Homo sapiens: one gene and its partners. The protein of the gene in region 3 interacts with the protein of the main gene of each other region in a biochemical or structural test. Each region holds a gene or a part of one and is shown on either strand. Other genes may lie near its edges. The genes, in order: TNRC6C, TRPV4, AGO3 and TNRC6A.

Region 1 (8,162 bases), on a different chromosome or scaffold from region 3:
CGCCTGTCTCGGCCTCCCAAAGTGCTGGGATTACAGGCGTGAGCCACCACGCTCGGCCGGTTTTACTTTTAAGGTATGAAATTAAATACGGTTGATACTGAGACTGTCTGTCATAAGGTTTAATCTTAACAATTTCATTTCGGATTCTGCCATTTAAATATTCTGGTAGTAACCTGGAGTATATGTAAGTGTTGGTTTTAGATTTTCGTCCTTCGTGTTTATTGCGGGGGGCGAGGGTGGGTTTCGAGTAGCATATGTCTTAACACTAACATCATTTCGAAACAGGTTTACATTTATATTTAGTTGGCTTAGGAACTTTGGAGTAAATAGTTGCCTTTAGAATGCTGATTGTGAAGGTAGAGTGGAATGAACTGTTTCGTTTGACATTCGGTGATTAAAAAATAACTAAGTCATACAGAGGATATATGAAACTAAATACAGTATTTTTCATCACCGCTACCGCCACCTTTTTGTTAAACAGCTGGCTTTCCTGAGATACATTTGTGCTTTTCCAAATGCTGTCATCTGGCTTACTTCCAAAACCAAGCCAGAGGAGGGTCAGGGCTGGAGTAGGACAACCTTTCTCCTTAATGAAGGGAGTTTCCAGTTTGGAAAGAAATGGAAGACACAGTTCCTGCAGTGCTGGCTGGGAATGAGGTATTTACATTACCTCTCCAACCCCAATTGAAGGGGATGAGGTCTTGATTGTAACTTAGTCTTGCTTGGCCCAGGAAAGTGATGCTAACTTGACATTTTTTAAAAAAGACTACTGATGAAAGTTAATTGTTTGATTTGAGTATATAGAATATCTTTGGCATCGTAGAAGTTCACCAACAACCTTTTAAGATTGAAAAACCATTTAAAAGACTATTTGGGGGTCTTTTTGGCCTTCCCCAATAGGAATTGGAGCATTCGATTGCATGCTTATGCTTTGGATGACTGTTTATCTTTCAGTCAGGGTTTATTGTGCAAAGGTGATACTTAAGATTTTATAAGAAAGAAAATCGTTTGGCTGTGAACTCTAGGCTGTCCCGTATACCAAAGTAAAACACATGGGACAATTAAGATTTGGGGATAGAGCAAGCAAAGATTACCAAGAGCAACTGAAGCTGGTGGAGAAGGCACAAGAAATGGAGAGGAGGAGACAGGAACAGATTTATAGACGTCCTTGGAGCTGGCAGAAGGATAGGTTGAGGGAGCAGGAGGCGGAGTCCTGAACAGACTGAGCGTGAAAGGGTCTATATAAGCTGGGAAGAACCAGGTAACTTTATGTTTGTTTTGTTTTTGTTATCTTCCGTTGAACTTGTTTTGGCTTCTTTCTCATAATTTTAAGACATGGGTTTTTACCTTTTCTCCAGCTCTATCTCAGAGGGTCTTCAAATATTTTAGGTGAGAAGTAAGGAAATATTTTGAAGTGTTGGTGACACAGTCTTTGGTCTCTCTTGCATGACAACTGGTCCCAGTGAAGGTGACTGGATTTTAGTTACTTTAGATAGTTAACATCTTAATATTTTGTTTGAAGATGTCATAGATTTGAGTAGGGACAGCAAAATATCAGGTGAGAAGTGGCTCCTATTTTGTAGGGGGTAGATTGTACAGGTTTTCTTGCTTTTACTCAGTCTATGGCTATCCAAATTTATACAAATGAGTTTTTAAATAATTGTGTGGTCACGAGGAGAGCATTCTTTATAAAATGATATACAATAAGCTTTCTTTAAATAGACTTTAATGCAGTGGAGTCCATTTATAAATTTTCAGCTTATACATAACTTTTTAGGAATATAATTACTTAAAAATGTAAAGGTTACTTGTCAGAAATAACTATATAACCTTGTGCAGAAAGTGTATATCTGAAATTGAAACTGAGAAATGTATAATCTTAGCCAGTGAACTTGTTTGAATAACCCGATTAAAATAATGGTACAGTTTCCTATTGTACAGATCGTGCATTTGAAATGTTAATTTATTTAATGAAAAGTAAATTATGTAATTTTAAAAAATCTCCACCTGGGATATATATAACAAGGTTTTACATGTTTAAAACATGCTGAAAATCCATATCGTTTGTTCCATTTTTGGAGTTTTACTAAAAATGAATTCTTTTCTTAGCTTTAGATGTTTTCAGAGAATGAAGAAGCTATTGCAGGAATGGAGAGCTGTTTGTTAAGAATGCATTCCTCCTCTGTAGCCTTCAAAAGACTATAGAGCTGTGTGCAGAGCTAGACAATCTGGGCATCCAGCCATAAAACATCACTGCTGTAGCACAGATAGTTGTTCGCACTCTCCTGAGCCCTCTGTGGCTGCAAACCACAACAGAAGTAATGGTCTTGGGAAAGGAACACTCAATGTTATTTTGAACTCTTAATATTCTCTGTGTCTCTCTGAGTTCCAGCTATGCATTGGAACTTTGGTTTTCTAAAATATAGTAGTGATTAAGGATGAGCAATAATATAGCTTCTTAAGTATATTCCTCTTGTAAGCCAGTGGATTTAAATGTTTGCTCTAGGAAATAAGGGGTGTCTAGGAAATAAGAGTTGTCTGTCCCACCATCTTCCTCTTTATTTGCCTCTTTGTTGCAATACTTCTTTTCTGTTGGAGAACCACTGCCCTAAGACCCATATGATCACTGGGCCACACACAGTGCACATGGCCCAAAGAGTCATCTGGAATCTTCCAGATATTTTGTGGGATGGATTGGTCTAATTTGGCCCAGTTTCCACTTTCTCATGAACCTTTTTGGCATAACAAATTTTTAATTTTTTTGCACAAAAATGAAGAAGAGTGTGACTGGCATCTATTTGTATAAATCCAAATGGTTTACTCTGAAGACCCTCTCTGTTTTTCTTCTTCAGACCATTTTAGAAATTAATACTCTATTGTATCTTTATAACTTCCTTCTCTGAAGGATTGAACTACAAACCTATAGTATCACAGTGTCAAGTTGAATTATTCTCAGCAGTTGGATAACTCTTGTCTGTGGTTGAGTCCTTTACTAATGTGCAGACTGTCTTTTGACGTGGCTAATACCAGATGCAAGTTGGTGCCCAGGTGGTTATTGGGAATATGTGCTTTGTTTGATTCATTTTATGTGTGCCTTCTAGCTTATTAAGAATAAGATCTCTCACAGCTAAAATCAAGTGCTTGGTTTGAGCCTGGCAAAGATATTGTTTACTTTTTTATTCCCAAAGATCATTTCTTTTTAATTACTCTTTTAGGAAGCAGGGAAAATCTCAGTGAAAATAGCAACTGGGAATTAAACTAAGATCTGAAACTGGGAAATGGCAACGCGGGCACAGGTGTCACCTTTCCAACTGTTGTTGAGATGATGTGGACAACGGTTATTCAGAAATTACAGTGGGGAGGAGGGAGATGCACAAGTATTTTTTCTCATACTCCATATGAAATATGAAGTGCAGAGTGAGGGGCCCAGAGTGTAGGGAGGGAATTTAATAGGCTTTGTTCTTCAGGGGGCTATGGCTGATGTCTTAAACAAGGTCTTTTTTGGTAGGGAGGCACAGTAAGGGAAGAAGGTGATGGATTTGTGGGAACAAGTACATTTGAGTCACTGAGGACAATTGGGAATTGTGAAGTGGGAGTGGACGAGGTTAGAAAGCATCCTTAGGTAACCAGATCTCCATTTAAAACTAATCTGAGCATTTACAATGTGATTATGTGCCAAGGACATGAGTTTATCTTATTTAATCCTCACAACACTCCTGTGAAGTGGTTGCTTTTAACATTCCCATTTTACAGATGAGCAAAGGGAGTAATTTCCACAAGATCCTATAGCTTATAGGAGATGAAGCCAGAATTTAAACTCAATACACTTCAAAGCCCTCACATATGGAAAAAGCTTGGATTATTTTAATAGCTGCTTAATGAGTCTCTTCCTCTGTTCTGTGTCCTGCTATCCAGCTGCCAATATTAACTGACTGCCTTCTGAGCACTTTGTGTGTATGATCTCATTCATTTCTCCTCAGCAGCTTATAAGTTAGGAGCTGTGATTATATTCACTTTATACATGGAAGCTGAAACTGATGGAAGTTGAATAATTTGCCCCAAATCAGAGCCTTAATAAATGTGTCTAGGTCCTTGGAAGCCAGAGCTTGAGCTCTTTATCATTCCGCTGTGCTGCCTTCTGAAGCCTGAGCCTGATTACATCATTCCTTCCACAAAACCTTTATGTCTTCCCTGTGCAGCGGCCACAGGGGAAGGACATCAACTTCTTCCTGCCCTCCTGGAGCTGTCTTACTAGTATAGTGAGAGAAATGGGCACCAAACAAGTTGTTAAAAAAAGAGAGAAAGCAATACATGTGAAGAACGCCACATACACATATTAAAAAGTTGACAAAAACCTAAGGTAATAGATCATTATATAGCTGTATACTGGATCTCCTCTCTTAAGGACGCATGTCAAAATTTTGGATGCTCTGAGAACTCCAGCAGTGAAAGAAATATGTTTACCTTTATTGGCCCAGTATTTCCCAAACTTATGTGGCCATTGAACATTGTTTTCCCTTCATACCACTTTTTAGTTCAGTGGGACTGACTTTAACAAATTCAGAAAGGAAGAGTGCCTGGTCATCCCCAGAGAGGGCCTGTGGGCTGCAGTGGTTAGGCAAGACTTCACTTGAAATGAGTTCTGAAAGGCTGGCAAAGCTTGGTTGGATGAAAGGGATATTCTACAAGGAGACGAATGGGCAAGCCATGTTTGGAAATATTTTGTAAAGCGCGTAACATAATGGCTGAGACATAGTAGGGACGGGATATAGTTATTGACTGGATGAGTGCAGAGGCCTAGCTGTAAATGGAGGTTCTGTGTTGGCAATAAGGTTTAGAAGGGGCTCTATCAGGTGGAACCTCTAGTTGTTGGCTCCTTAGGAACCGTTGGTGGCTGTTGGTGGGCATGACATGAATCAGGTGTTGGATTAGAATCTTCCTTGAGCAGAGGTATGGTGTTAAAACTGGCTGTTGTAGCTGTCTGTGCAAGGTGATGCCTACATACTGGTAGGGTCAAACTGAAAAGCTGTTACAAAGAATCAGCAGGATAAAATAATACAAAATGATTGACGTGGGTTGTTGGAAAGAATGAGTTCTAAGAGGCATAGGGTACTTACTGCTCTTCCTAGAATCTGCCACAGAGGCTTTAAATTAATGAAGCTAATATTAAGATATTTGGTTAAATACACATAGTACATTCTTTTTAGATGCTGATGGGGAAAGATGACACACAAGATAGTAGTTTTAGGCGAGTTTATTGTATGAGGTTGTGTTCTGCAGTAGAGATTTGACTCACAGCATAAATCCAAGTATGTGATGAGCCATGTAATAATAGACGTCTGCTGTTAATTATGGTGGATACTCTCAATGAAATCAGATTTTCTTAGGGCCATACCCATAAAAAAATTCTTGACCTAGATCTTATATAACAGTCCCAGGTATATAGTAAATTTTATGCATATGGAATGTTGACAGGAAAGAAGAGAAAACAAAAATCTTTAATGTTTCAAGGAAGCATAAGATCAAATCATTACATAAATAGAATAGCAGCATTAGTAATTGTGTTGAAGTTACTAGAATTTTTAAATTTTAGGTAAACTTAAGAGATTCCTTAAACTTAAGGAATAATAGATTCTTTTTTACTCCTGTAGAGTGGGGAAACTTTAAAACAGATAAAAATATTTTTTATTTTATCAGTCAGGTGATGAATGAGGATCTTAGCCACTGTTGGACTTTTGTGTATATGTAGTGTGGCATTTAATTGAGCATTGTTATTTATTCTTTTCTATCAACTTTAGACTTTAAATTTCAGCACATTTCCTTGCAGATTAATGCTTTGCAAAAAAAACTTCATTATCATGATAATTTCTTAAGATTTGAGTTACTTATTAGCAGGGATAATAACATGTTCATCTTTGTAATCCCTACATCGTCTATAGTATTTTGAAGATATTTAGATAACAATCATCTGTTTCTTCAGAGATATTGCTTCCACAAGTCATGCGGGGGGGGAGAGAAGATTGATAATTGAACATGTTTCTTCGGTTTTTAATCTTTTAGAATAACGATCAACTGTGTTTTCAACTAGTAAGCCTGGTACGTGGGGCTGTATCTGCAGATTTGAGGGGAATTGGGAAGCTGACAGGTGAGGAACAGTCATCATAGGGGCTCCCTGCACTACTGTTTTCTGTAGGGTACCTGAAGGAGTGGCTAGTTCCTTTTCCTGAGGCCTCTGGGCACTGCCAATAAGTGCCACTGACCCAATCATGAAAAAACAATGTGTGACGCTTCTCATGCACAACAAAATTGTAGGTATGATAGATCAATTACAAGGTAATTCCTGGCTTGTCTTTCACAGATTTGATGATGGTCTTTAGATACTAGCCCATTGGAAAAATGAGTGTTATGACTAATGAGATTATTCTGGCCAAGCCAGAATGTCTGGTTAGCATTATTCTGGATAGACTTATATCCCGCCCTCCTTTAGGGAAAACTCTCTGGAAATAAGAGGATTTTTAAAAAGAGATTGTCAGTATTCTTTTTCTTGAAATCAATTTATGTTTACTCATAATTTCAGTACTCCTTTAAAGGTTACTTTATAAAAATTTGAGATGTAGTTATTATTCTTATTATTCTTATTCTTATTCTTATTTTGAGACAGAGCCTCGCTCTGTTGCCCAGGCTGGAGTGCTGTGGCATGGTCTCAGCTACTGCAACCTCTGCCTCTCAGGTTCAAGCGATTCTCCTCCCTCAGCCTCCTGAGTAGGCGGGATTACAGGTGCCTGCCACCACGCCCAGCTAATTTTTTGTATTTTTAGCAGAGATGGGGTTTCACCATGTTGGCCAGGCTGGTCTCAAACTCCTGACCTCGTGATTCGCCCACCTCGGCCTCCCAAAGCACTGGGATTACAGGCGTCAGCCACCGCGCCTGGCTGAGATGTAGTGGGTTGTTGTTGTTGTTTGAGACGTAGTCTTGTTCTGTCGCCCAGACTAGAGTGCGGTAGCGTGATGTCAGCTCACTGCAACCTCCGCCTCCCGGGTTCAAGCGACTCTTCTGCCTCAGCCTCCCAAGTAACTGGGACTACAGGCGCCCGCCACCACACCCAGCTAATTTTTGTATTTTTAGTAGAGACAGGGTTTCACCATGTTGGCCAGGATGGTCTCTTATCTCCTGACCTCAGGTGATCCGCCCACCTCGGCCTCCCAAAGTGCTGGGATTACAGGCGTGAGCCACCGTGCCCGGCCCGAGATGTAGTTATTTAAATAGCTTATGCACATGCCTATTTAGCCTTGGATGGCAGAATTTTGATTGGGTAGATCTTAAGTCTTCAGAAAATGGTTTGTTCTCTTTAACTTGTGATTTTCCAACTAAATCTTAAATTAGTGAACGTGAGTTTAAAAATTCAGCCTTTAGGAACACTCACAAAAGTTCTCATTAGTTTCTCTTACTTTTTATTTGTCTTTCCCACAACCTTTCCCCCCTGTTTTCCCACTTGCCCTCCTGAAACTGCACTTGAGAGTTGGGAGTAGAGAGAGACCTGGTTTGAGGCAACAGGGTGAACACAGCGTTCTTTCATTCTGTGTACTGTTGTGACGCTAAGCCTGTTAGCGTTGAGATACCAGCCCACAGCTGGTGAAAGGATTCCAGACTTCATACTGGCAGTTTATTGAGTGCCTACCATGTGCCAAGTACAGAGCACTTAATATGTTATTTCATTTATTCTCCTTAATAAGAGGAGAACACTGAGGCACTCTGAAGAAGCCAGGTCACCTAATTCCATTGGCTGTGCTCCTCACCGCTCTATTGCACTACCTCATTCAGACTGACTGAGGTAGTATAATTTCCATTATCTTTAATAAATTTTTTTTTTTTGAGGCAGAGTCTCGCTGTCACCAGGCTGGAGTGCAGTGGCGCAATCTCGGCTCACTGCAACCTCTGCAACCTGGGTTCAAGCGAGTCTCCTGCCTCAGCCTCCCAAGTATCTGGGATTACAGGTGCCCGCCACCATGCCCAGCTAATTTTTGTATTTTTAGTAGAGACGGGGTTTCACCATGTTGGCCAGGGTGGTCTCGAATTCCTGATCTCAGGTGATCCACCTGCCTCAGCCTCCCAAGGTGCTGGGATTACAGGCGTGAGTCACCACGCCCGGCAATTTCCATTA
Region 2 (8,374 bases), on a different chromosome or scaffold from region 3:
GGCCACTCAGCATCCTGCTTCCAAGGTTCATCCATGTTGTTGCATGACTCAGTAACCATTCATTTTATTGCCAAATAGTATTCCTTTGTGTGGATATACTGTGTTTGTTTATCCATTGAGAATTTGAGTTGTTTTCTTTTTTTGGCTATTATGAATAATGCTGCTATGAACATTCAAGTTTTTCTATGGACGTAAGTTCTCATTTCTCTTGGCTATATTTCTGGGGTGGAATTGCTGGGTCATATGGGAACTCCAGATTTTTTTTTTTTTTTTGAGACAGGATCTCACTCTGTTGCCCAGGCTGGAGTGCAGTGGCACAATCTCAGCTCACTGCAGCCTCTGCCTCCTGGGCTTAAGCAATTCTTGTGCCTCAACCTCCTGAGTAGTTGGGATTGCAGGTGCCCACCATCATGCCCGGCTAATTTTTGTATTTTTTTTTTTAATTAGAGATGAGGTTTCACCGTGTTGGCCAGGCTGGTCTCAAACTCCTGGCCTCAAGTGATCCTTCCGCCTTGACCTCCCAAAGTGTTGGGATTACAGGCGGGAGCCACCGTGCCTGGCAGTAACTCTAGATTTAATATTTGGAGGAACTGCCAGACCGTTTTCCATAGCAGCCACTCCATTACACATTCCCACCAGCAGTGTGCGAAGATTCCAGCTTCTCCACTTCCTCATCCACACTTATGGTCTGTCTTTTTGAGATCATATTCTTTTTTTCTTTTTTTCCTAGACAGGGTCTCACTTTGTTGCTCAGGCTGGAGTGTAGCTGCCTGAACACAGCTCACTGCAGCCTTGACCTCCAGGGCTCAAGTGATTCTCCTGCCTTAGCCTCCCCAAATGCTATGATTACAGGTGTGTGCCGCCGCACCTGGCCAGGAAAATATTCCTGCTGGTCATGCTACACTGTAGAGTCTGCTGGGCTTGGGTTCAAATCTTACCAGTTGTGGGATGATCTCAGACAAGTGGCCTCTTTGTGTCATTATCTATAAAATGGTGGAAGAATTCCTCCTTTCCAGGCTGTCAAAAGATGAACTGAGTTAGTGGCAGGATCAGGACTGTGCCAACTGTAAAGTGAGGTGCACGTGTCTTGTTTTTATAACTGGGTACCCTGGGTATAAAGTCCCTGAGATCCTGACCTGTCTGGCTCACCAATCTCTCCCCAGCATCTGGCACTGGACCTGGCATACAGTAAGCACTTGGTAAATGCAGACCCTTGGCTGCTGCCCAGGAACCTTTCTTAGGGGAGGTAGCTGAGTCCACCTGGGGCAGTCCAGGAGCTACGTGGAGAGCAAGGCTGCGCCCCACATGTGGCTGCCACATGACTCACAGCCAATGCTGAGGGCCTTGAAAGTTTTTCCTTCCCTAAGAGGAAACATTATTTCTGGCTAGGCACAGTGGCTCATGCCTGTAATCCCAATGTTTTGAGAGGCCAGGTTATGAGGATCACTTGAGCACGGGAGTTTGAGACCAGCTTGGGCAGCATAGCGAGACCTCACCTGTACAAAAAATAAAATTTAAAAAGCCAGGCTTGGTGACACACACCTATAGTCCCAGCTATTCAGGAGGCTGAGGCAGGAGGATCGCTTGAACCTAGGAATTTGAGGCTGCAGTGAGCTATGAGCAGGCAACTGCACTACAGCCTGGGCTACAGAGCAATACCCTGTCTCTCTCTAAAAATAAAAAAAAAAAGATTAAAAATTAAACTTAAAAAGTATATTCATATTGTTGTGTGACCCTCGTTCATCTCCAGAACTCTTTGCATCTTGCAAAACTGAAACCCTACGCCCAACAAACAGCAACCTCCCATTCTCCTCTCCCCCAGCTCCATCAACCAGGACTTTTTTTTTTTTTGAGATGGAGTCGCTCTCTGTTGCCCAGGCTGGAGTGCAGTGGCACGATCTCTGCTCACTGCAACCTCCCTCTCCCAGGTTCAAGCAATTCTGTCTCAGCCTCCCAGGTAGCTGGGATTACAGGTGCCCACCACCATGCCCAACTAATTTTTGTATTTTTAGTGGAGACGGGGTTTCATCATGTTGGCCAGGCTGGTCTCGAACTCCTGACCTCAGTTGATCTGCCCACTTCAGCCTCCCAAAGTGCTGGGATTACAGGCATGAGCCACTTCGCCTGACCCATCAACCAGTATTTTTAAAGCACCTACTAAGTGCCAGGTGCTAGACCTGTGGTCATGAACACGTTCCCTTGCTTCATGGACACTGGTACCCATTTTTTAGGTGAGGAAACTGAGGCACAGAGAGAGAGGGAGGCTCTTGCCCACAGCTCCCACCACAGCTCCTTCTCCCATCAGCGGCAGGGCAGGATTTGAACCCCAGTGTCTGGTGCAGAGGCCAAGCTCCAGCTGCTTAGCCCAAGATGAGTCACTTCCCTACATGGGGGCCTCAGTTGCCCCATCTGTGAAATGGGGATCAGGAAAGAGCTGGGTTAGTGATGATGATGCTGAGCGCTCAGGCCCCTTCCCTCTGAGCTTAGAGAAGAGGAGGTCGCCATCCCTGGCCCCATCTCCCCCAGTTCCAGTCCCCAACATCAGCTGCCTTATGGCTGGAATCACCCTTGCCATTTTCTTTAAATTGAGACAGGCCTTTCTGCAGAAATGGGTCCCAGACTCACTCCTCCACTCTCAACCTGGCCCAGCCCCAGCCCCAGCCCTGAGGGCCCCCAGCAGATAGCTGTCTGTCAGGGAGGTGTGAGGGGCCCTGTGTTTACCTTCCTCTCCACTGCCAGACATCTGCCTGTTTACTCCGGACCCTCAGAGGGTTCTCTTTCCCACCCCAACCCCCACCATGGAGGGAGCAGCTTTTGGAGAGGCCATACTCCTCTCCAAGCCTCAGTTTCCCACTTGCAAAATGGGTAGAGCAAACCCTACCTCACAGCCTGTTCTCCCTCTCATCCCCTAGGCTTCTGTGCTCAGTGAGTTAATTATTAGGGTTTGTTTCTTTGTAAATGTTTCACGCTGGAGGTGAACACATCACTCCTATTCAGGGGTACACACACACACACACTCTCTCTCTCTCTCTTTCGCCTCCCCACCCAGCAATTCTAAAATTTCACTTTCCAGCTGTTGGACCTCAGGAGAGATGCTGCTATTTTCAAGCTGAGGAGGAAGGAGCTACCCCACAGTCCCTGAGTCAGCTCAATTTAGTGAAAACACTAATGATGAAAATGGCATGGCTCTGGGCCGGGCACGGCGGCTCACACCTGTAATCCCAGCACTTTGGGAGGCCAAAGTGGGTGGATCAACTGAGGTCAGGGGTTCAAGACCAGCCTGGCCAACATGGTGAAACCCTGTCTCTACTAAAAATACAAAAAATTAGCCTGGCGTGGTGGCGCATGCCTGTAATCCCAGCCCCCAGGAGGCTGAGGCAGGAGAATCGCTTGAACTCAGGAGGCAGAGGTTGCAGTGAGCTGAGATCACACCCCTGAACTCCAGCCTGGGCGACAGAGTAAGACTCTGTCTCAAAAAAAAAAAAAAAAGGGCTCTGCACAGCCTGGATGCTCCCAGCATCTTCACTGCGACTGTGAGGTGAGGACTTTTGTATGCCCCACTCTACAGGGGGATGTAGAGGCACTGAGGCACAAAGGTGAAGGGACTTGCATAGGGCTGCTGGGTTAGAGAGTCACAGAGCCAAGCTGTGGGCCTGCTAGGCTTTCCAACCACCCTGGAGGAAGTGAGCTGCCCATCCTGTGGAGGTATTCAAGTGGACTCAGTGCTGGGTAGAGGGTATGGCTATGTGTTGGGGCCCACCTTTGTTATCTGATAAAAGAAAATACATGGGTAGGTGTGGTGGCTCATGCCTATACTCTCAGTGCTTTGGGAGACTGAAGTGGGAGGATCACTTGAGGCCAGGAGTTGTAGACCGGCTGCCCTCCCCCACCCCCCCTTCTACAAAAAAATAAAAATTAGTGGGGTGTGGTGGCGCATGCCTGTACTCCCAGCTGCTCAGGAGGCTGAGGTGGGAGGATCTCTTGAGGCCAGGAGTTTGAGGCTGTAGTGAGCCGTGATCATGCCACTGCACTTCAACCTGGGTGACAAAGGGAGAACATGTATCAAAAATAATAATAATAATAAAAAAAATAAACAAAAACGCATTGAGCCAGGCACGGTGACTCAGACCTCTAATCCCAGCACTTTGGGAGGCCGAGGTGGGTAGATCGCTTGAGCCTGGAGTTTGAGACCAGCCTAGGCAACATAGTGAGACCCTATCTCTGCAAAAAATTTAAATAAAATTAGCCAAGCATGGTGGTAGGCGTCTGTGGTCTCAGTTACTAGGGAGGCTGATACGGGAGGATTGCTTGAACGCTGGTGGTTGAGGCTGCAGTGATTCCTGATCACGCCACCGCACTCCAGCCTGGGCAACAGAGTGAGACCCTGTCTCAAAAACAACAGCAACAAAACATTGATGGCCTACTCCGAGGCAGGCTTCGCAGTAAGCACTGGGTGAAGACCAAGGAGAGCAGCTCACATTTATTTACCCCTGAACCATCTCTATGGGCCATACCCGAGGGTAGGGACCTCCTTCAACGCCTCGGAGGAAATTGTCTGCTGAATGAATGAATGAGCAAACACGTGGAGGACTGGGCCGGGACGCCCATTTAGAGACTAGGACACAGTCCCAGGGCGGCCCGAAGTCACGGAGCAAGATCGAATCGGAGCCGATTCCAACTAGAGCCCTCTCCAAAGACCGTCTGCCGCTCTATCCGGGGATCGCGACACCCATTTTCCAGGCGAGGAAACTGAGGCCCTGGCCCTGCACCTCCCCCGCAGGGGAGGCCCTCGCTGGGCGGGCGGGGTGCGAGTAGGGGCCGCCCCTTCTAGGGCCTGCGCTCGGCGGGGTCCGCGAGCCGGCGGGTGGGCGGGGAGCTGGCCGGGGGCGGCGCGCGGCTGGAACCTGAGCCGGCGGAGGAGGGACCCGCGGGCGGACGGGCGCCGGGCGGGCCGGCCGGGATTCAGGAAGCGCGGATCTCCCGGCCGCCGGCGCCCAGCCGTCCCGGAGGTAAGTGGGGCCCGGGCCCGGGAGGGGCGGCTCAGCCGAGGTCCCCTCGCGCCCCTGGGGACATCTCCGTGGCCCGTCCGGCTCCGGGGGGTCCCGAGGCTCCAAAATGCGGGCCAGGGGCGCGGGAGACGGAAGGCACCAGGTTCCGCAGGCGCCAGCCTCTCAGCTAAGTGCCCTTGGGCCGGACACCGGCTCTTTGGGTCTCGGTTTTATCACCTGTGAAATGGGCACCAACGTGGGGCCTGGGGTAGCAGGTCTGGGGGGAGGGCGGTTCGGTTCCCTGAGACCCCAAGCCAGGGAACCAAAGGCCCGGAGCCTTGCAGCCCACCTTAGGAGACTTGGAAGAGGGATTTCGGGGGACCTAAGGTTTGCCCTTGGCCCCTGAGCATGTCGGAGGGAATTTGGAGTCTGGAGCTTCCAAAGGCTTCTTCTTGGTTACTGAGTCCCGGAGAGACGGCTGTTTCCTCCAAGAGGCATGAAAATCTTTAACCTCTAGTTCTGCCCTGGACTCTCAGGACGTCCCGGGGGCGGGTGGCTCCTGGGGGTGGGTAGCGGGGGTGGGGGTGGGGGAGAGAGAGACTCCCACACTCCCCGCTTGCCTGGAAACACCAACCACAGATGCATTCATCGAGCCACCCACTGCTCCAGCCTGCCCCAGCTGTTCCCTCTGTCTGTCCTCTCTGTTTTGCAGATGGGGAAACTGAGGCTTAGGTCGGGGATCTAGACAATTGGGATTTAAACCCAGGGACTATCCAGCCCCAAAGCCCTTCCCACCACACCAGGTGGCCTGTCCTGGGGCCAGCTCTGCACACAGGGCCTGGTGCCCCCGGGGTGCTTGGGAAGTGGCAGGGCAGAGGTGGGCCCTGTGGCTGTTCTGGCTCAGCTTCTAAAACAAGAGCCTCTGCTGGGGGCAGAGGGGCCGTGAACCCCTGAAATGTTAGGCAGATACCCTGTGGGAGCTTTGTTCTGGGATGCTAAGAACCGCTTGAGGATTTAAGCTTTGCCACTTTGGCTCCGGAGCAAGGGCAGAGGGTAAGTCGGGACTCCCCGGGCTCCTGAGGAGGGTGACGAGGTGGGCTTTTGGGGGAACAAGGGTAGAAAGGTCAGGCCTGGGTTATCTGCGGGGCTAAGAGCGGGCCTGTGTGGGGCCCGGGGTGTGCTCTGCAGTCCCCTGCTGTGTGACCTTGGCCTGGTCCCTTAGCTGTCTGAGCCTTTGTGTTCTCTCCTCTGTAATACTGGGGTGCCTGAGGGCAAGCCCCCAGGGCTGTCGTGAGGACCGATGACCTTCCAGGAACCTGGCACAGCCACTGTTGGCTGCCATCAATGTTTAACCAGTTGTCGTTGCCCCAAACATTTTCTTAACAAAGAGGGTGAAAAAAGTCAATTGGCCATTTCCACATTTCTCTAGTTCATTCTGTTTGAAGAATGATGGGAACCAGAAAGCCTGGACACCCACCTTGATTGGTGAATTGCACGCGGAAGGGGTCCCAGACACAAATGGCAAATGGCAGTCATAGTTCAGGGCGGTTCACTTTGTAAGATCAAGGTGGGGCTGTTTTGAAATGGAGGTAACCAGGGAATGGTTGCCTGAACAAAAAGGGTGTGATGCCCCCAGGAGGGATGTTTCACATGAGCTCCGGTGAGGATGGCTGGGATTCCCCAGGTGAAACCCAGATACCTTATATCTGGGGAAGGGGCTGTGGAGGTTCCTCCTGCCTTATCTGGTGCCAACTGGGCCTCTGCCACTTACTCCCTCCTCCAGCAAATGCTCTCTGCAAGCTCACCTGTGCCAGCTCTGGGCTGGGCACTGGAGCAGTGAGATGCTTCCAATCCCAGCTTCGCTGTAGCCTGAGGCGTGTGAAGGCAAGAAGGATTTTCCCTTGTGGCCCCCCGGGGAGGAGCTCCCACACCTGACTTGTGAGCATCTAGCAAGGTGTGCATGGATGGCCGACGCTTAGTAAATGTATGCTGTGGAATGGATGGGGTCAGGGGAGAATGCCGTAGGGTAGGAGGACTGGCCCAGGAAGGACCCACGAGGGCTTGGTCAAGGTAGTGTTTAAGCCGCACCTTAAAGAATAAATGCAGAAGTAGAGGAAAGAGTATTCAGGCAAAGAGAATGGCACTAGCAGAGATATGACTTTTACCTGTTACCAGGTGGCTACACCTGGGGTTTATAGAGCAGAGAAATAGTTCTGTTTGTCTGGAGTTTGTGACGTGACTGGAAAGGGTGAGGGATCAGACAGGCAGGAGCTAAATCAGACCCAGAGGCCCAGAAGTCCTGCCTGGGAGTGACACGGTTGTTTGTCTGTTCTAGAAAGGTCCCTGTGGCTGCAGAGTGGGAAAGATTGGAGGAGCTCAGACAGAGAGGCTGGCCCCAAGGCTGGGGAAGTCATCCAAGCTCTGAGTGGAGAGCGGCAGCTGGAAGGAGATGTAGGAGGGAAGGAAACACACAAGACTGAGCCTCATGTGCCTGGCACATAGTAGGTGCTCAGTCAGTATCTATGGCATGGTTGTCTGAACAAATACTTTTGAGATGGTCAAAGTCCTTTGAGTTCCTTCCTCTGTTCCTAGGGGGATGGGGTCTACATGAAGTGGGTGTCTCTACTCCATGCAGGCCCTTGACCCTGCTGTCTGCCTCAGTTTCCCCCATTTGACTTTGGGAAAGACACTCCAGTCCGTTCTCCAAATTATAGGGACCCAGGTAACAGCTCCTCTTGTTGTCACAGATAGGGTCTGGGGAGCCAAGATAACATTTATTTCATGCCAGTGGGCCCTCTGGAATGCTCCACATCGCCCATTTGGAGCAGAATTCACCTGTTAAAGATTAATTCCGATCTCTTGAGATAAGTGGCTGCTGTTATGAACTCTGGGTACAAGGTTCTGTCTGGCTTTAGCCAACCCTGGGTTGCATTAACAACTATTATGATGGTGGCAAGCCTTTATTGAGCACTTACTGTGTGCCAAGCACTGAGTCAAGCACCCTCAGCACATTTGGATACAAAACTATTTTTGTCTCTATTTTTCAGAGGGCAGAATGAGGTCTAGAGGGTGAAATCTCTTGCCTGGGTTCTCTCAGCTGAGAAGGGGCAGAGCTGGGACCTGAATCCCATTTGTGTGATTGCAAATCCATCCCTTCACCTGTAAGGTGGCCCGTCCCCATTTGTCTGGACCCTCATTGGGGTGCCTGGGGTCATGGGGGAGCTACTCTGCAGTCCAGAGATAGGAACCTGAGTTGGCCGGGTGCAGTGGCCCACACCTGTAATCCCAACACTCTGGGAGGCCAAGGCAGGTGGATCGGTCGAGCCCGTGAGTTTGAGACCAGCCTGGGCAACATGGTGAAACTCTGTCTCTAGAAAAAATACAAA
Region 3 (8,162 bases):
CAGGCTGTTCTCAAACTCCTGACCTCAGGTGATATGCCCGCCTCGGCCTCCCGAAGTGCTGGGATTACAGGTGTGAGCCACCGCACCTGGCCGAGGTATGATCTCTTTAAATGGCCAAGGCACAAGGTGTAACAGGTGCTTGCAGCTCGACAGGGCTGTCAGGCCACTGGGCTGGAGTAATTTGGTGATAGCATAGCCTTAACAATAAAGAGGAGTCATGGCTACTTGCCCCTGGAGCAAGACATATCCCAGCTATAGTTCCACTTCCAAGATGGAGTAGTGCAGTAGCTGCTTGGACCACAGTGGGTGGAGCACAGTATCAGCTCCTTTTCTCGGGTTGGGAGGGTACACTTATGTGGACTCCAGGCAACTCCCCAAGATGGGATTAGTGCCTAAGAACAGTGCTGGGGACCCCAGTGTAGGTGTCCAAGGTGTTGATGGGGATTGCTGGGATCCTCTTGCTTATCTGTTCACTGCAGGGAGAAGTTCCTCCTGGTTCCCAGCTGATCCTGATTTGGAGATGGAGTAGTGGAGGCTCAGTGTTTCTTTCTGTTCTCTGTGTGGTCATCCCGAGTTTCTGTGCTCACCAGGGTTTCTGTTACTCCTCTGATGCACTCCAGGGCTCTCCCTCAGTTATTTTCATTAAAATATAGTTGTTTGGCCCAGTGCAGTGATTCATGCCTACAATCCCAGCACTTTGAGAGGCTGAGGCAAGTGGATCGCCGGAGGTCAGGAGTTCAAGACCATCCTGGCCAACATGGTGAAACCTCATCTCTACTAAAAATATAAAAATTAGCCGCGTGTGGTGGCAGAAGCCTATAATTCCAGCTACTCCGGAGGCTGAGGCAGAAGAATCGCTTGAACCTGGGAGGTGGAGATTGCAGTGAGCTGAGATCACGCCATTACACTCTAGCCTGGGATCACGCCATTACACTCTAGCGTGGGCGACAAAAGCAAAACTCCATCTCAAAAAAAAAAAAGGTCGGACATGGTGGCTCATGTCTGTAATCCCAGCACTTTGGTAGGCTGAGGTGGGCGGATTGCCTGAGGTCAGGAGTTCGACACCAGCCTGGCCATCATGGTGAAATCCCATCTCTACTAAAAATGCAAAAATTAGCTCGGCATGGTGGTGGGTGCCTGTAGTCCCAGCTACTTGGGAGGCTGAGGCAGGAGAATTGCTTGAACCTGGGAGACAGAGGTTGCAGTGAGCCAAGATCACACTACTGTACTCCAGCCTGGGTGACAGAGTGAGACTCCGTTAAAAAAAAAAAATGTAGTTGTTTATCTGTTTTTCTGGCTTTCTTTGTGAGGGGAGCAAGCACTAGGGGCTTCTAGTCAGCCATCTTGCTGACATCACTTCCTCTGGACCTCCCATTAACCACCAACCCTGAAAATGTACAACATTAATTGTAAAGAGGAGCTGATATAAGAACATGGATAAATGAGTCAGACAATAATTTAAAGCCATGAATCTGAAACAGGTTCGTATATGTGGGACATATAAAGCTATAAGATACAGAGCTGTATGGTAAGGTACATCTGGAAATTTCTATCTTAATCAATAATGGCAAGTAACCTAAAATAGTTTTGGGTTATAGACTCTCAGACATCCTGGGAATGTCAGTTTACTTTTTGTTGTTGGAAAGTTTGAGATGCACTGATTTAAAGCTTATGTTCCACCAAGTAAAGCTAACACATTAATGAAAAGGTTTTCTGGAAAGAATAAGAAAAACTTTTTAAATTATTTAACTGAAACTTAAGGCCAGGTGCAGTGGCTCAAGCCTGTAATCCCCGCACTTTGGGAGGCCAAGGTGGGCGGATTACTTGAGGTCAGGAGTTTGAGACCAGCCTGGCCAACATGGTGAAACCCTGTCTCTACTAGAAAAAATAAAAATAAAAAAATTACTGGGTGTGGTGGCACCCAGTAATCTCAGTCTGTAATCCCAGCTACTAGGGAGGCTGAGGCATGAGAGTCACTTGAACCTGGGAGGCGGAGCTTGCAGTGAGCCGAGATCATGCCACTGTACTCCAGCCTGGGCAACAGAGTGAGACTCTGTCTCAAAAACAAACAAACAAACAAACAAAACAAAACAACAACAACAACAAAAAAAAACTAAAGCTGTAATTCTACAATTAAATTTTTTTTTATTTTTTGAGACAAGGTCTGGCTCCGTCACCTAGCCTGGAGTGCAGTGGCATGATTTTGGCTCATGGCAACCTCCCTCTGCCTCCGCGCTCAAGTGATCCTCCCACGACAGCCTCCTGAATAGCTGAGACTACAGGCACGTGCTACCACACCTGGCTAATTTTTATATTTTTTGTAGAGACGGGGTTTCTCTATGTTGCCCAGGCTGGTCTCAAACTCCTGAACTCAAGCAATCTGCCCATCTCAGCCTCCCAAAGTGTTGGAATTATAGGCGTGAGCCACCATGCCCAGCCCAATTAAACTCTTTCACATGCTTAATACTACTAGTACATGTCAAAGTTTTCTATAAAATGTTATCGTCATTAGCTGAGTGTGGAGGCCTGTTGTCCCAACTACTTGGGAGGCTGAGGTGGGAGGACTGCTTGAGCCCAAGAGTTCTAGTCTAGCCTGAGCAAAATAGTGCTTTCTCTTTCTCTCTCTCTCTTTTTTTTTTAAAGATGCATATGCTAAAGGAACAATCAGGTACTTTCACATTTTTTAACATTTTAGTGAAATTAAGGGCCTGTTTTAGGGAGATTCATTCTATTAAACTACTTATATTCTGGTATTTTCATAAAAATAAGTTCCTAAGCCCCTCTCAAGGTAAGGAAAGGGAAGACATTTGTTTACTGAAAGTTTCATCTAATTTCATGTGGAAACAATTTGGAATGCAAAGAGTATTTCTTTATCCTTTTTCTGAGATTTAAAAAATACACGTAAGAATGACAGTTCTTGAATTAAAATATTTTACCCAAAGTGTAGGCTTACCTGTATTCCAGCATGGCTACAGAGGTAAAAATCGAACTCATATGGGTGTGTAATGTCTGTATCAACTGTTGTTCCAGCTGGGATATTGCCACTTCTTCCAACCTAGATTTGTTTGGTTAAAGTTTAAACAAACAAGAAAAAGGTAAAAATATATCTGAAAGCACTTTAAAAAATGTATGAATACATAGGCTGATCCTACATTTCACTACTTTCACCTTGAAATATGACTTAAGCAGTCATTCAGAGCAGACTACGCAGGTCCTAGTTCCTATTCTTACATGTTGCTGAAAGTGAGCGCTGATACACAACAAAACCTAATACAGTCTCTACTACTGCTTAGCTGATAGTTGACCCCACTATGGGTGGAAGACACTAAAAAAAATTTTTTTTAAATTAACTTAAAGTGCTCCAATTTATGGTACCTGTGCATAGTAGGTATTCTTGAACGTGTGATTTATGAAGATCAGCATTTACCTTGGAGAAAACTAGATGTTTAGAGAGAGAGAATGCTGACAAGATCAACAACAGTCACACCATTTGTTAACCATTTATGGATCAGGCACTTTGAACACATTATTTCTAAAACCTGGTAACAATCCTGCAAGTTAGGGATTATTTCCATTTGTTTAGGGAAATAAAGGCTCAGGAATACAAAATAATTTGCTCAATAGCACACAATAAAGGGCAGAACTGGGATTCAAACAATGAAATAATTGCAAAGGCCTTATTCCTTTTATTTCATACTATCAGTTTCAACATCTTGTAAGAGGACACCATGATTTTCTCTGAGTGGATATAATATAACTGAAATGACCCAAAATTCTTGATGATACAAGCTCCTTATAAAACACTTAAAAATGTTTATTATACCCACCTCCACCGCCTTATCCCAACACATTTAAAATCATTAACTGTAAGTCTAGGTTTACAAGGCTAGCAAATCAGAAACTATTTTACTGACTCAGATAATATTTTTGCCACGTGAGTGACTGTTATAAGGTAGTACCTTGAATTATAGTGGTGTGGACCAACCAGCTTCACTTTACCAAGCACAAAACAAAACAGTTCATAATCTACTAAATTATGCCTGGTCCTAAAAAAATACTTAACTCTAATAAATTAGCAACACGTAAATCTTCTAATTAATATATACAAAAAGTTGTAGGCTGGGTGTGATGGCTCACACCTATAATCCTAGCACTTTGGGAGGCCGAGGTGGGCGGATCATTTGAAACCAGGAGTTTGTGACCAGCCTGGCCAACATGGTGAAATCCTGCCTCTAATAAGACTACAAAAATTAGCCGGGTGTGGTGGCACATGCCTGTAATCCCAGCTACTCAGGAGGCTGAGGCCTGACAATCACTTGAACCCAGGAGGTGGGGGCTGCAGTGAGCCAAAGTCATGCCACTGCACTCCAGCCTGGGCAACAGAGCAAAACTGTCAAAAAAAACAAAAACAAAAAAATACAACTATCTCATAATCTTGTTGGTGAGGATTAAATTGATGAAATTTATAAGCAATACTTAGAACAATATCTATTATTATTTCTTCTTCTCTATTCTACCACTATCACCACCACTCTGCAGCTAGCCAAACTTTATTTATTAATTTTTTTTTGTTCTCATCACTCTACTAATGAGAGCTAGCCAATCTTTACTGAGTACTTAGTGTGGGCCAAGCCCTGTTCTAAGTGCATTACGTATTTTATTTAATTCTCCCGACAACCCAAATAAGGTAGATATTAATATTATCCAATCTTGCTAAGAAATAAACAGACACAGAGATGTTAAGTTGCTTGCCCAAAGGAATACAGTGAGTATGTATGGCAAAGAAAAACACCCCTCTCTTAGTCCTTTCTATCAAATCCCTTTCTCAAGGGGAAACAACACTTGGTATCATTAGATTTCTCTGCTCCAAGATTTACAGGATGGGGGCAGATGTGATCAGAGCACTGAAAATGACAGTAAGACTGCTGTCTTGCTGCACACAGATAAGAAAACATATTTCTGGCCGGGCGCAGTGGCTCACACCTGTAATCCCAGCACTTTGGCAGGCCGAGGCAGGCGGATCACAAAGTGAGGAGATCGAGACCGTCCTGGCTAACACGGTGAAACCCTGTCTCTACTAAAAATACAAAAAATTAGCCGGGCATGGTGGCAGGCGCCTGTAGTCCCAGCTACTCAGGAGGCTGAGGCAGAAGAATGGCGTGAACCTGGGAGGCGGAGCTTGCAGCGAGCTGAGATCGCGCCACCGCACTCCAACCTGGGCGACAGAGTGAGACTCCGTCTCAAAAAAAAAAAAAAAAAAAAAAAAGAAAACATATTTCCTTAGGTATTTATACCTCTCTTTCCTTCCTAATTATAAAAAATATACATTCACATTATAAAATGCATAAAATAATTCTGTGAACTTTAAAGGAAACATGGCTAAAAGTTAGTTTGTATAAATTTCCACTTTTTTTTTTTTTTTTTTTTTTGAGATGGAGTTTTGCTCTCTTGCCCAGGCTGGAGTACAGTGGCACCATCTCGGCTCACTGCAACCTCTGCCTCCTGGGTTCAAGTGATTCTCCTGCCTCAGTCTCCCGAGTAGCTGGGATTACAGATGTGCGCCACCACACCTGGCTATTTTTTGTATTTTTAGTAGAGACAGGGTTTCACCGTGTTGGCCAGGCTGGTCTTGAACTCCTGACCTCAAGTGATCTGCCTGCCTTGGCCTCCCAAGGTGCTGGAATTACAGGTGTGAGCCACTGTGCCTGGCCTGAATTTCCACTTTTTTAAAAAACTAATTTGTATGAGATATTTTAAAAAGAGAATGTACTGTTTTTTCTGAAGATTTTAGGAAAATATGAATAGAAGAATAATTTTAAAACCATGAGTTTCTTCACAACAAAAAAGTAGAATGAGATTTTGAATATTTGGAGTGTGACTAGAAATTCTAGAAAGTTAAAAATAATCTATTTTGATGCTTCTATACTCATAATGTAATTGTTGAAATTTGCTACTATATATTGGAAATCCTGCTGTTGGCAGAGGGCCCTTGTTGAATGCTCTATGAACTATGTTGGATAAGCTTGGTTTATAACAGTATTACAACAGAGGTGAGATTACCCTTTCTGTCCTATCAGCACAAAATAATCGAGTGTGATGTCTCTTCTGAACTACAATGTAGGTTATTCCAGGTTGATAGTCTTTCTCCAAACTGATGCAGGCTTCTCGAATTGCTAGTAGTTCATAATATAATACCTAGAGAATATGAAATGGAAAGATTCAATATAGTCAGCTATTTGTTTTTATATACTTCAAAGTAGGATAATGATTTAATCTCAGGATTCCTTAATTTCACCACTCTATAGCTAATAGATTCCATTTTAACGATTATTAGAACATGGTCTTAGCAAGCAAGGCATACACATTCGTAGTGAACATTTTCAAAAAGACAATCTAACAAAACACCAAGTTTTGACTTGGGGAACTCTAACAAGGTTTTTAACTCTAGAACTAGACACCATATTATAAACACAATATCTGATTTCACCATAGTCTGATGAGATTCTAGGTAACCAACCTGCCTAAACTGCCCCTCTGAAACACCATCCCGATAAAAGATGATACGAGTAGGCTTGAACCGAGTTGACTTATAAAATTGAATAAGAAGTTCCCGGACCATGGAGGCCAAGTCCTGGATGATCTCCTGTCGGGGTCTCTGAACTCTTACTGTGGCACAGTATCTGCTTGGGTGTGCATCCATACTACCTACAACCTAGGTTAGAAAAAGTAAAATAAATAAATAAATAAATAAAAATAAATGATAATCAAAATTACATGAATTTCATTTACATTTTTATTTTACTGTAACCTGTTCATCACTGTTTACTTTGAAAGTAATCAAAAATAGTAATTCTGAGTTGGGTATGACGGCATGTGCCTATAGTCCCAGCTACTCAGGAAGCTGAGGCAGGAGGATCACTTGTGCCCAGGAATTTAAGGCCAGCCTGGGCAAAATAGCAAGACCCCATCTCTCTCTCTTTCTCTCTTTTTTTTTTTTTTTTTTTTTTTTGAGACGCAGTCTTGCTCTGTCATCAGCCTGGAGTGCAGTGGCACAATCTCGGCTCACTGCAACCTGCACCTCCTGGGTTCAAGCGATTCTCCTGCCTCAGCCTCCAGAGTAGCTGGGACTACAGGTGTGCACCACCACCCCCAGCTAATTTTTGTATTTTTAGTAGAGATGGGGTTTCACCATGTTGGCCAGGATGGTCTTGATATCTTGACCTCGTGATCCGTCTGCGTTGGCCTCCCAAAGTGCTGGGATTACAGGCATGAGCCACCGCACCCAGCCTACCCCATCTTTTTAAAAAATTAAAAAGAATAGTACTTCCCGTTGAAGAACAGAATAAAACACCTAGTATAGGGTAAAAAACTATTTTCCTATAACTAGGCTGAACTATACATTTAACAATTAGATTCTTTGTGTTGTTGGTAGACTTAAAGATTAGTAAGGAAAGAAAAAGACAAAAAGATGTGTATAAGAGAATAAGAGAAAAGAAATAAGAAAAAACAAGGACCAATTCAAACCACTGATTTTTCTTCCTATCTCTTCCACTTTAGCAACCTATCTCAGAAGCCATACTTAAGACTTTAGCTTCATCTTAGAACTGTTACGCTTCATAAATTTTAAAATCAGAATTTTCCCTCTTGGCCTGAATCTATACAGTCTTATTGAGCTGCATTTGTGTTCTGTATCTGGTCCTCAGAGAAGTTAATCTTGGTTTTGAAACTAGCTATATTAATTTCTCTTTCTGTGTCTAATATTGTTATGTCTTTGGAGAAGAGACCTCAAAGCATGAACTTATAACATTATTCTGATCAGAGCCTAGAGCTGGTCACTGCCTCCAGACCCTTTCTTCCAGTTAACCTATACCAAAGTCATGCTTCAAAAATGGAACTTTGACCATTTCTTTCCCTTGAAAGGTATCTCGCTACTTAAGAATAAATCCAGGCCGGGCACGGTAGCTCACGCCTGTAATCCCAGAACTTTGGGAGGCCGAGGTGGGCGAATCACAAGGTCAGGAGATCAAGACCATCCTGGCTAACACAGTGAAACCCCGTCTCTACTAAAAATACAAAAAATTAGCCGGGTGTGTCAGCGTGCACCTGTAGTCCCAGCTACTCAGGAGGCTGAGGCAGGAGGATGGCGTGAACCCGGGAGGCGG
Region 4 (8,162 bases), on a different chromosome or scaffold from region 3:
GGCATGTACAGTCTAGTAGAAAGACTATCATAAATGCATAAATAACAGTAGTACTAGGTAGATGACGTAGGAATCAAAAGATACCATCCCATTCATGTGCTTGAGAATATTCAGTCGGTCAGAAGGCATGAAAGGAAAAACAAATATCAAAGAGATTGTAAGGCAGTGTGTACTAAGGATCCAATGAGAGGGGAGCATTTCTTGCAGGTTAAAAGTGTTCTGAGGAAGGAGAGAGGTGATTAGGTGGGCAGATGCTTCCTTCATCTCCATCTCTAGCTGTGTTTCCTTTTTCACAAAAAAGAATGTATCTGTCTTTACCCATAGTGCTCTCTCCAGGAAATCAAGGCATTGTATTCATTGAGTAACCATTTTTTGAGCATTTTCGATATTTCAACTGTGGGACTGGGCACTAAGCCAGGGAAGAATGTAAGTAGTTAAATTTATTGATTGCTTACTATGTGCCTGGCACACTTTTCCTAAGATTTTACATGGACTCATCTGATCCTTGAAAAACCCTGTGAGGTAGGTAGTATTGTTATCTCCGTTTTACAGATGGAGAATTTGATGTATAAAGAGGTTAAGTAACTTGGAGGAGACCATATCACTGGTAATTGGAGTAACTTTTTAGGCTTCGAACTTGCAAAATTTGAAAATTTCTTTTGGTAGGCGGGACCCACAGATGCATGCAATACTTCTAGATCAGTTTTTTCATCTGGGCACTTGACATTTTGGACCAGATAATTTATTATTTTGAGGGTTGTTCTGTGCATCACAGGATGTTCAGCATCCGCAGTAGCACTCCCCGTCCAGTTGTGACAATCACCAATGCTTCCAGATATTGCTAGATGTCCCTGGGAGTGGCGCAGAATCGACCCTGGCTGAGAACCACTGCTCTAGATCTTCATTAGGAATTGTAACGTGAAAGCCTCCAAACTTTTAGATGTTGAGTTAATTTAAACATCTTTTGGTCGAGTGCTGTGGCTCACACCTATAATCCCAGCACTTTGGGAGGCCAAGGCAGGTGGATTGCTTGAGGTCAGGAGTTCGAGACCAGCCTGGCCAACATAGTGAAACCTCATTTTTACTAAAAATACAAAAATTAGTTGGGCGTGGTGGCATGCGCCTGTATTCCCAGCTACCCGGGAGGCTGAGTCAGGAGAATTACTTGAACCCTGGGAGCGGAGAGCCGAGATTGTGCCACTGCACTCCAGCCTACTTGACAGAGTGAAACTCTGTCTGAAAAAAGAAAAAAAAATCTTTTAATAACATGGAAGCCTAGACCCTATTATGTAGATCCTCAATTTGGAAGCCCTGGTTTCTGAATGTCAAAGATGTGTTGCCATTCTCCTTTTCCTCTGCTAAGCTGCAAATCCTCAAGACAGTGTGCCTGGTAGCCAGTGCCAGTTAAACAACATTGGCACAAATAATAAATTTAGTTTACTATCATAGGTAAACTGTCTTTTAAAATTCACAGTTGGCCATTAAAATTGTCACATTATGTTAGTATCATGGGAGCCATAATATCTACATGAGGGCGATTACCATTAGAACTGAACTTTGAAGAATGGAATCAGTTTTGAAAGGCAGATAAAAGGGCATTGTAAGAACAACAACAGAAGTAAGGACACAAAAATCCAGAAAGTACAGGAGATTTTGATATTGCAGTGGGTAGTTCAGGTTATATAAGGTATTTGTAGCAAACTGGTTAAGGCCAGATATAGAGGTTCTTGAATGTCAGGTTGAGGAACTTGTGCATAAATTTTTAGGTATGGGAGCTATTGCATGCTTTTTGTTGCGTACTGATGTGATAGAATAATCTTCTGGTCTGGGATTACTAACCAGGTGTATTTATGGGAGAAAACTAGCGATCTAGGCAAGAAGCGATGGAGGCCTGAATTGAAGTGGTGGCAAAAAGAGGTGAGTGAGGCTGGACCCAGTGGCTAACGCCTGTAATCCCAGCACTTTGGGAGGCCAAGGCAGGAGGATTGAGCCCAGGAGTTTGAGACCAGCCTGTGCAACATGATAAGACTCTGCCTCTACAAAAGAATTTTAAAAAATTAGCTGGGTGTGGTGGTGTGCACCTGTAGTCCCAGCTACTTGGGAGGCTGAGGTGGGAGGTTTGCTTGAGCCCAGCAGTTTGAGGCTTCAGTGAGCTGAGTTTGTGCCACTGCATTCCAGCCTGGGAAACAGAGTGCAACCCTGTCTCAAAGCAAAAAGAGAGAGAAAGGAAAAAAAAGATGAGTGTATAAGATACTGAGGAAGTTAAGAATCTGGGATTTGACAGCTGATTAGGTGTCAGAGGAGTCAAAAATACATAGGAATCTTCATCATGGGTGAATGAGAGTTTGACCCAACCTCTGAACAGAACAAGTCAGAGCAGAAATAGGAGTTTGGGGAGAGAAGATGCTAAGTTACATTTTGCAGTTGTAAAAAAAAAATCTACCAGTACTGGTCTAGACCAGTAGAACTCAGCTGGTCTAGTCTGAAAAAATATTTTGGAGGCCAGAATCATAGAATCATTGAATATTTAGAGCTGGACTATGACTTTAGATAGAGATCAGCCAGCATTCTGACTTCTTCATTTCTCAAGTGAGAAAGCTGTGGTTGAAACAGATTCAGTAACTTACGCAAGTTTATATTCTCTGTCAAGTGACCCAGCTGGGATTTAAACAGGCCTTTTGACTCTAATTCTAGTATTCCTCCCATGTGCAGTATTTTATTTTATATTGCACAATAGATAAAATATAATTTTGGTTTCTCCTTTTTTATTCTAAAAGAGTAAAAGCAGTTATCTCAATATGTTATGTTCATTCTAGTGATGACTTTACTATCATGTACTAAATGTGTTTTGTTTAAAGTAGAAGTTAACTTCACGTTATACTGATTTGTCCCCCCATAAACCAACTGTATGTCATCATATAACAAAAGTTGTTAAAAGTGCTATATACCATATAATGTTGCATCTAAACTGGGACACTTATCTGAGATGCTTTTGCGTGGGACAAATGCTATATTAGAAATGACTAGGACTGGCCAGGTGCAGTGGCTCACACGGGTAATCCCAGCACTTTGGGAGACTGAGGCACGTGGATCATTTGAGGTCAGGAATTCAAGACCAGCTTGGCCAACATGGTGAGACCCCGTCTCTACTAAAAGTACAAAAATTAGCTGGGTGTGATGGCATGTGCCTGTAATCCCAGCTACTTGGGAGGCTGAGGCAGGAGAATCTGAACCTGGGAGGTGGAGGTTGCAGTGAGCCGAGATTGTGCCACTGCGCTCCAGCCTGGGCAACAGAGTGAAACTCTGTTTCGAAAGAAAGAAAAGAAATGACTAGGACAGCAGGAGTAAAACCCCAAGGCATTAGGTCTCCGTAGCTAAGGTGGATCCCACTCATGCAATTCATCAACCTTTGTCTGAAAAAAAAGAAAGAAAATCTGATTTTGTTAAGCTTTTCTTTTGCTTTGCTGTGATACGGTTTGCAGGCCAACACATGCATATTGCTATAGGTTGGTGCGAAAGTTAATTGTGGTTTTTGCTCATTTTTAATGTACCAACCCAATATGCTTTTTTTCCAGCTTAATTTGGCAATTAGGTGGTAAATCACTTGATAGGATAAATTAATCACAATCTGTAAACTTAATTTAAAAATGTGTAACAACCCTCTGTGGAAAATTTGAATATAAACATCAAAAGAATACCATTCTGTAAGCTCTTTTGATTTTTGGCATCTGAAATGTCTGAAAGTATAAATTGCAAAACATATTTACAATTTTAATGACAACTGCAAAAGTATTGCCCATGATTGGAAAGACTAAAATGGTATGCGTTATATGTATTCTGTTCAGGCTGATGCATGATAAATCTCTCACTGAAAAAACAGAAATCCCTATCTCATTTTAAAATTTTAAAAAATTGGCCGGGCACAGTGGCTCATGCCTGTAATCCCAGCACTTTGGGAGGCCGAGGTGGGCAGATCACTGGAGGTCAGGAGTTCAACACCAGCCTGACCAACATGGTGAAACCCCATCTTTACTAAAAATACCAAAATTAGCCTGGTGTGGTGGCACATGCCTGTAATCCCAGCTACTTGTGAGGGTGAGGGAGGAGAATCGCTTGAACCTGGGAGGCGAGGGTTGCAGTGAGCCGAAATTGCGCCATTGCACTCCAGCCTAGCCTGGGCACAAAAGCAAAACTCTGTCTCAAATAAATAATCAATCATTCTAACCTTAAGCAAAATTGGAAAAATGTTGCAACTAATACCTGTATCTCTTTACCTAGTTTTAGTGATTATTAATATTTTGCCACATTTGTTCTATCGTGACATTGCACACCAAAGTATGGCAGTAGGTATCTCACAGAATAAGGGCATTCTACCTGACAGCAATCAAATGATCACCCACAGGAAGTTTAACTTTACAATTCTGTCTGGTCCCTATTCAGATTTTCCCAATTTTCTCAAAATTTTTTTTAAAGTTGTATTTGTTCTTTCACTCAATTGCTGTATCCTGGGTTGCATTTAGTTGTGTCTGAAGTTTCTCTTACATTAGGAGCATTTTCCTGCCCTTTTCTGCTTCTCTCTTGACAATGACATTTTGAAATAGTCCAGTCTAGTTGTTTTTGCAGACTGAAATTTGCATTTTTTGGGTCTTGTCTGTATGATTAGGTTCAGGTTGACCCTTTTTGGCAGGAGTATCCCATAGGTGATGATGTGTTTGTCTTCAGTATTCCCTCCCCACAGCATTTTGAAGTAAATTAACCGAAAGGTTATCCAATATTCTTACTTCTACACTGACTTGGTGTTTCTTTCATTTTAGGAAATGCCAAACAATTGGTTTAAACCGAGATGTAATTTTAAATATTTGAGGTTACAGTAATTACAGGTCTTTGTATTTAAATCGATCAGCCATAATGATTACTGCTTTTATGAAGATTTATGCCAAAGGTAGCTCCCTTACTGTGGGACATAAAAGTTGCTTGTTTTCAGCTTTGACCAGTGATGAACTGATAACCCTGGTAGGAAAATGAAACATTGGGGCTGGGCTTGTAATACGCTTTCTTAAAAGAATGCCCCATTGAAATTAGAGTGGCACGGTGCCACCAGACCAAGGGTTCTCATCCCGATGCCACAGAGGGACCACAGGTGTTATGAAGTGGTTTGCAAAATTGAATGTATGCCAAAATAAAATAATAAAAATAAAAATAAAACCCCACAACAAAAGCAGATATGGTCTTTAGTGCTCATTAGATCTCAAAGGGTCATTACTCCTCAAAGATTAAGAAACTGCTTCTTTATGAGGAGGTTGTCAGAGGAGCTGAATAGTATCAATAAGAGGAAGATGTTTGAGATTCAAAAGGAAGTAATATTCGACTAAGGCATAGCTTCTTTCCATCTTAAAAAAAAGCCACCCATGAAAATAAATATAGTTTAAATTTCCTATTTAAGATGTCTTATTTTAAAAATGATTTGCATACTCTGTGTGTTTGAGTTGGCTATGAAGGAGAAATCCTAGCATTTCCACTCTTGTAACTAGGGAAAAGCATTTTGAATTTTTAGCAGTAGTATATTATGTGATGATGACTCAGCTGACTTCCCGTTTCAAATGGAATGTTCAAAACAGATTGAAACCTGGTTGAAGAATTTTATACTTTGAACCTTACAAGATATTTTCTGCAAACAGTGACTGATTGGATTTTGTATAATAACAAACAAGATTAAGCCAACTCAGTTGTTTTGCTGTTCTTATTAGTGGTTTTCAGTCAGGGAGCACTTATTGAGCAGTTTGCTGCAATAATATTGAATATTTTTAGAGTTATGACGTCTGTGTTTTGTTGACTTTGGTCCCTTCTTTCTCCCATTCTTTTGAAGTTTCCCTAAAACATGTGTGCACAGACGGGAGAGAATGGTAGTTAAGTGTGTGCTGATTTTAAATGTCCTTTTAAATATCATTTATTCCTTGATAATTGACTGTATAACTGATGTAAGAGAAATATGTTTTATATGTTATTCCACTTGTGAATCTCTTTGCAATGTGAGGCATATAGTGAAAATCTTACAAAGATAGGGTCATAAAATGTGCATTCTCTACACTGCTGCAGGTTAATCGTCCTCGAGCCACGTTTCTGAGGCCTGTCAGTCACTATTTCTTAGAAACCTTTGTTGGCTCCTTCCCAGTGACTCTGGAATTAAAGCCCAGACTCTTGTTTTTTGCTCAGCTTATCAATTTAGCACTGTCCCTTCCACCTTTTGCCCTGTCCCTAACTCTTCCTTCTCTGAATGTACCTTTCAGTTTCTCTCAACTTTTAAATAACAGCTTTATTCAGATAAAATTCCCATATGATAAAATTCACCCTTTTAAAGTCCACAAAGTGTATGATTTAATGGTTTTTAGTATATTCACAGAGTTGTGCAATCAGCACCACTGTCTAATTCTAGAATTTTCACCCCTTCACCCAAAAACCCCATAATAGCAGCCACTCCCCATTTGTCCCTTCCACCCAGCCTCTGGCAACCACTAATCTACTTTCTATTATAACTCTATGGACTTACCTATTTTCGTTTAAGTGGAATCATACTATATGATACTTTTGTACGTGACTTGTCTTATTTAGTGTAGTGTTTTCAAGGTTCGTCCATCATGTCGCATATATCCTTTATTCCTTTTTATGGGCAAATAAATTTCATTGTATGGCTATTGCCCATTTTGTTTGTCCGTTCATCAGTTAATGGGCATTTGGGCTGTTCTAACTTTGGGGCTATTATGAATAATATTGCTATGAACATTCATGTACAAATGTTTGTGTGGACATATATTTTCAATTCTATTGGTTATATACCTAGGGGTGGAATTGCTGGGTTATATGGTAACTTTGTTTAACTTTTGTTTGTGTTGTTTTGTTTTGTTTTTGAGACGGACTCCCTCTGTTGCCCAGGCTGACGTTCAGTGGTGCAATCTCAGCTCACTGCAACCTCCCACCTTCCAGGCTCAAGCCATCCTCTCACCACTGCCTCCCAGGTAGCTGGGACTGCAGGTGCATGCCACCACGCCTGGCTAATTTTTTCTATATTTTGTAGAGATGGGGTTTCACTGTGTTGCTCAGGCTCTGTTTAACTTTTTGAGGAACTGCCCGACTGTTTGCAAAGCAGCTGCACAGTTCTACATTCTCATCAGCAATGTATGGAGGCACTAGGTTCTCCACATCCTTTCCATTGCCAGCATTTGTTAGGGTTCTTGTTTCTGATTTTAGCCATCCTAATAGATGTAAAGTGGTATCTCATTATGGTTTTGATTTACATTTTCCTAATGGCTAATGATGATTAGCATCTTTTCATGTCCTTATTGGCCATTCGTATATCTGATCTGAGAAGTGGCCATTCAGATTCTTCTCCCATCTTTAAATTAGGTGATATTTTTTGTCATTGAAAAAGGTCTTTATATAGCTTAGATACAAGTCCCTTATTAGATATATGATTTACAGGTATTTTTTCCTATTTTGTGGCTTTTCCTTTCACTTTTTTTTTTTTTTTTTTGAGACAGAGTCTTGCTCTGTCGCCCAGGCTGGAGTGCAGTGGCATGATCTCAGCTCACTGCAAACTCCACCTGCCAGGTTCAAGCGTTTCTCCTCCCTCAGCCTCCTGAGTAGCTGGGATTACAGGCACCCACTACTATGCCCAACTAATTTTTGTATTTTTAATAGAGACAGAATTTCACCATGTTGGCCAGGCCAGCCTTGAACTCCTGACCTCAAATGATCCACCCGCCTCTGCCTCCCAAAGTGCTAGGATTACAGGCATGAGCCACCGCATGCAGCCTCTTTTCACTTTCTTGATGAAGTCCCTTGAGCACAAAAATTTAAAATTTTGTAAATCTAGTTTACCAGTATTTTTTTCTGTTACTTGTGTTGTTGGCAACAAATCCAAGGTCACAAAGATTTACTTGTATTCTAATAATTTTATAGTTTTAGTTCTTAATGTTTAGTTCTGTAATTCATTTTGAGTTAAGTTTTGCATATGGCATGAGGGCTCCAATGTCATTCTTGTTATGTAACTATCCAGTAATTCCAGCTTCATTTGTTGAAAAGACTTTCATCTTGGCACCCTGTTGAAGGTCACTTGATCATAAAATGAAGAATTATTTCTGGACTCTCAATTCTATTCTGTTGAT

What was found.
Region 1: the proteins of AGO3 (region 3) and TNRC6C form a complex in vitro, tested with the Homo sapiens proteins (one study listed by BioGRID).
Region 2: the proteins of AGO3 (region 3) and TRPV4 interact in a test that uses a peptide from one of them, tested with the Homo sapiens proteins (one study listed by BioGRID).
Region 4: the proteins of AGO3 (region 3) and TNRC6A form a complex in vitro, tested with the Homo sapiens proteins (one study listed by BioGRID).

What each region holds. Positions count from the first base shown.
Region 1 is NC_000017.11:77,961,398-77,969,559, forward strand, and holds part of TNRC6C (trinucleotide repeat-containing gene 6C protein), read left to right. Parts: intron 1-8,162. UniProt on the Homo sapiens protein: Plays a role in RNA-mediated gene silencing by micro-RNAs (miRNAs). Required for miRNA-dependent translational repression of complementary mRNAs by argonaute family proteins.
Region 2 is NC_000012.12:109,829,985-109,838,358, reverse strand, and holds the start of TRPV4 (transient receptor potential cation channel subfamily V member 4), read left to right. Parts: upstream 1-4,960; 5' UTR 4,961-5,009; exon of another isoform or gene 5,010-5,011; intron 5,012-8,374. UniProt on the Homo sapiens protein: Non-selective calcium permeant cation channel involved in osmotic sensitivity and mechanosensitivity. Activation by exposure to hypotonicity within the physiological range exhibits an outward rectification.
Region 3 is NC_000001.11:36,038,340-36,046,501, reverse strand, and holds part of AGO3 (protein argonaute-3), read right to left. Parts: intron 6,713-8,162; coding exon 6,518-6,712; intron 6,196-6,517; coding exon 6,061-6,195; intron 3,056-6,060; coding exon 2,954-3,055; intron 1-2,953.
Region 4 is NC_000016.10:24,731,969-24,740,130, forward strand, and holds part of TNRC6A (trinucleotide repeat-containing gene 6A protein), read left to right. Parts: intron 1-8,162.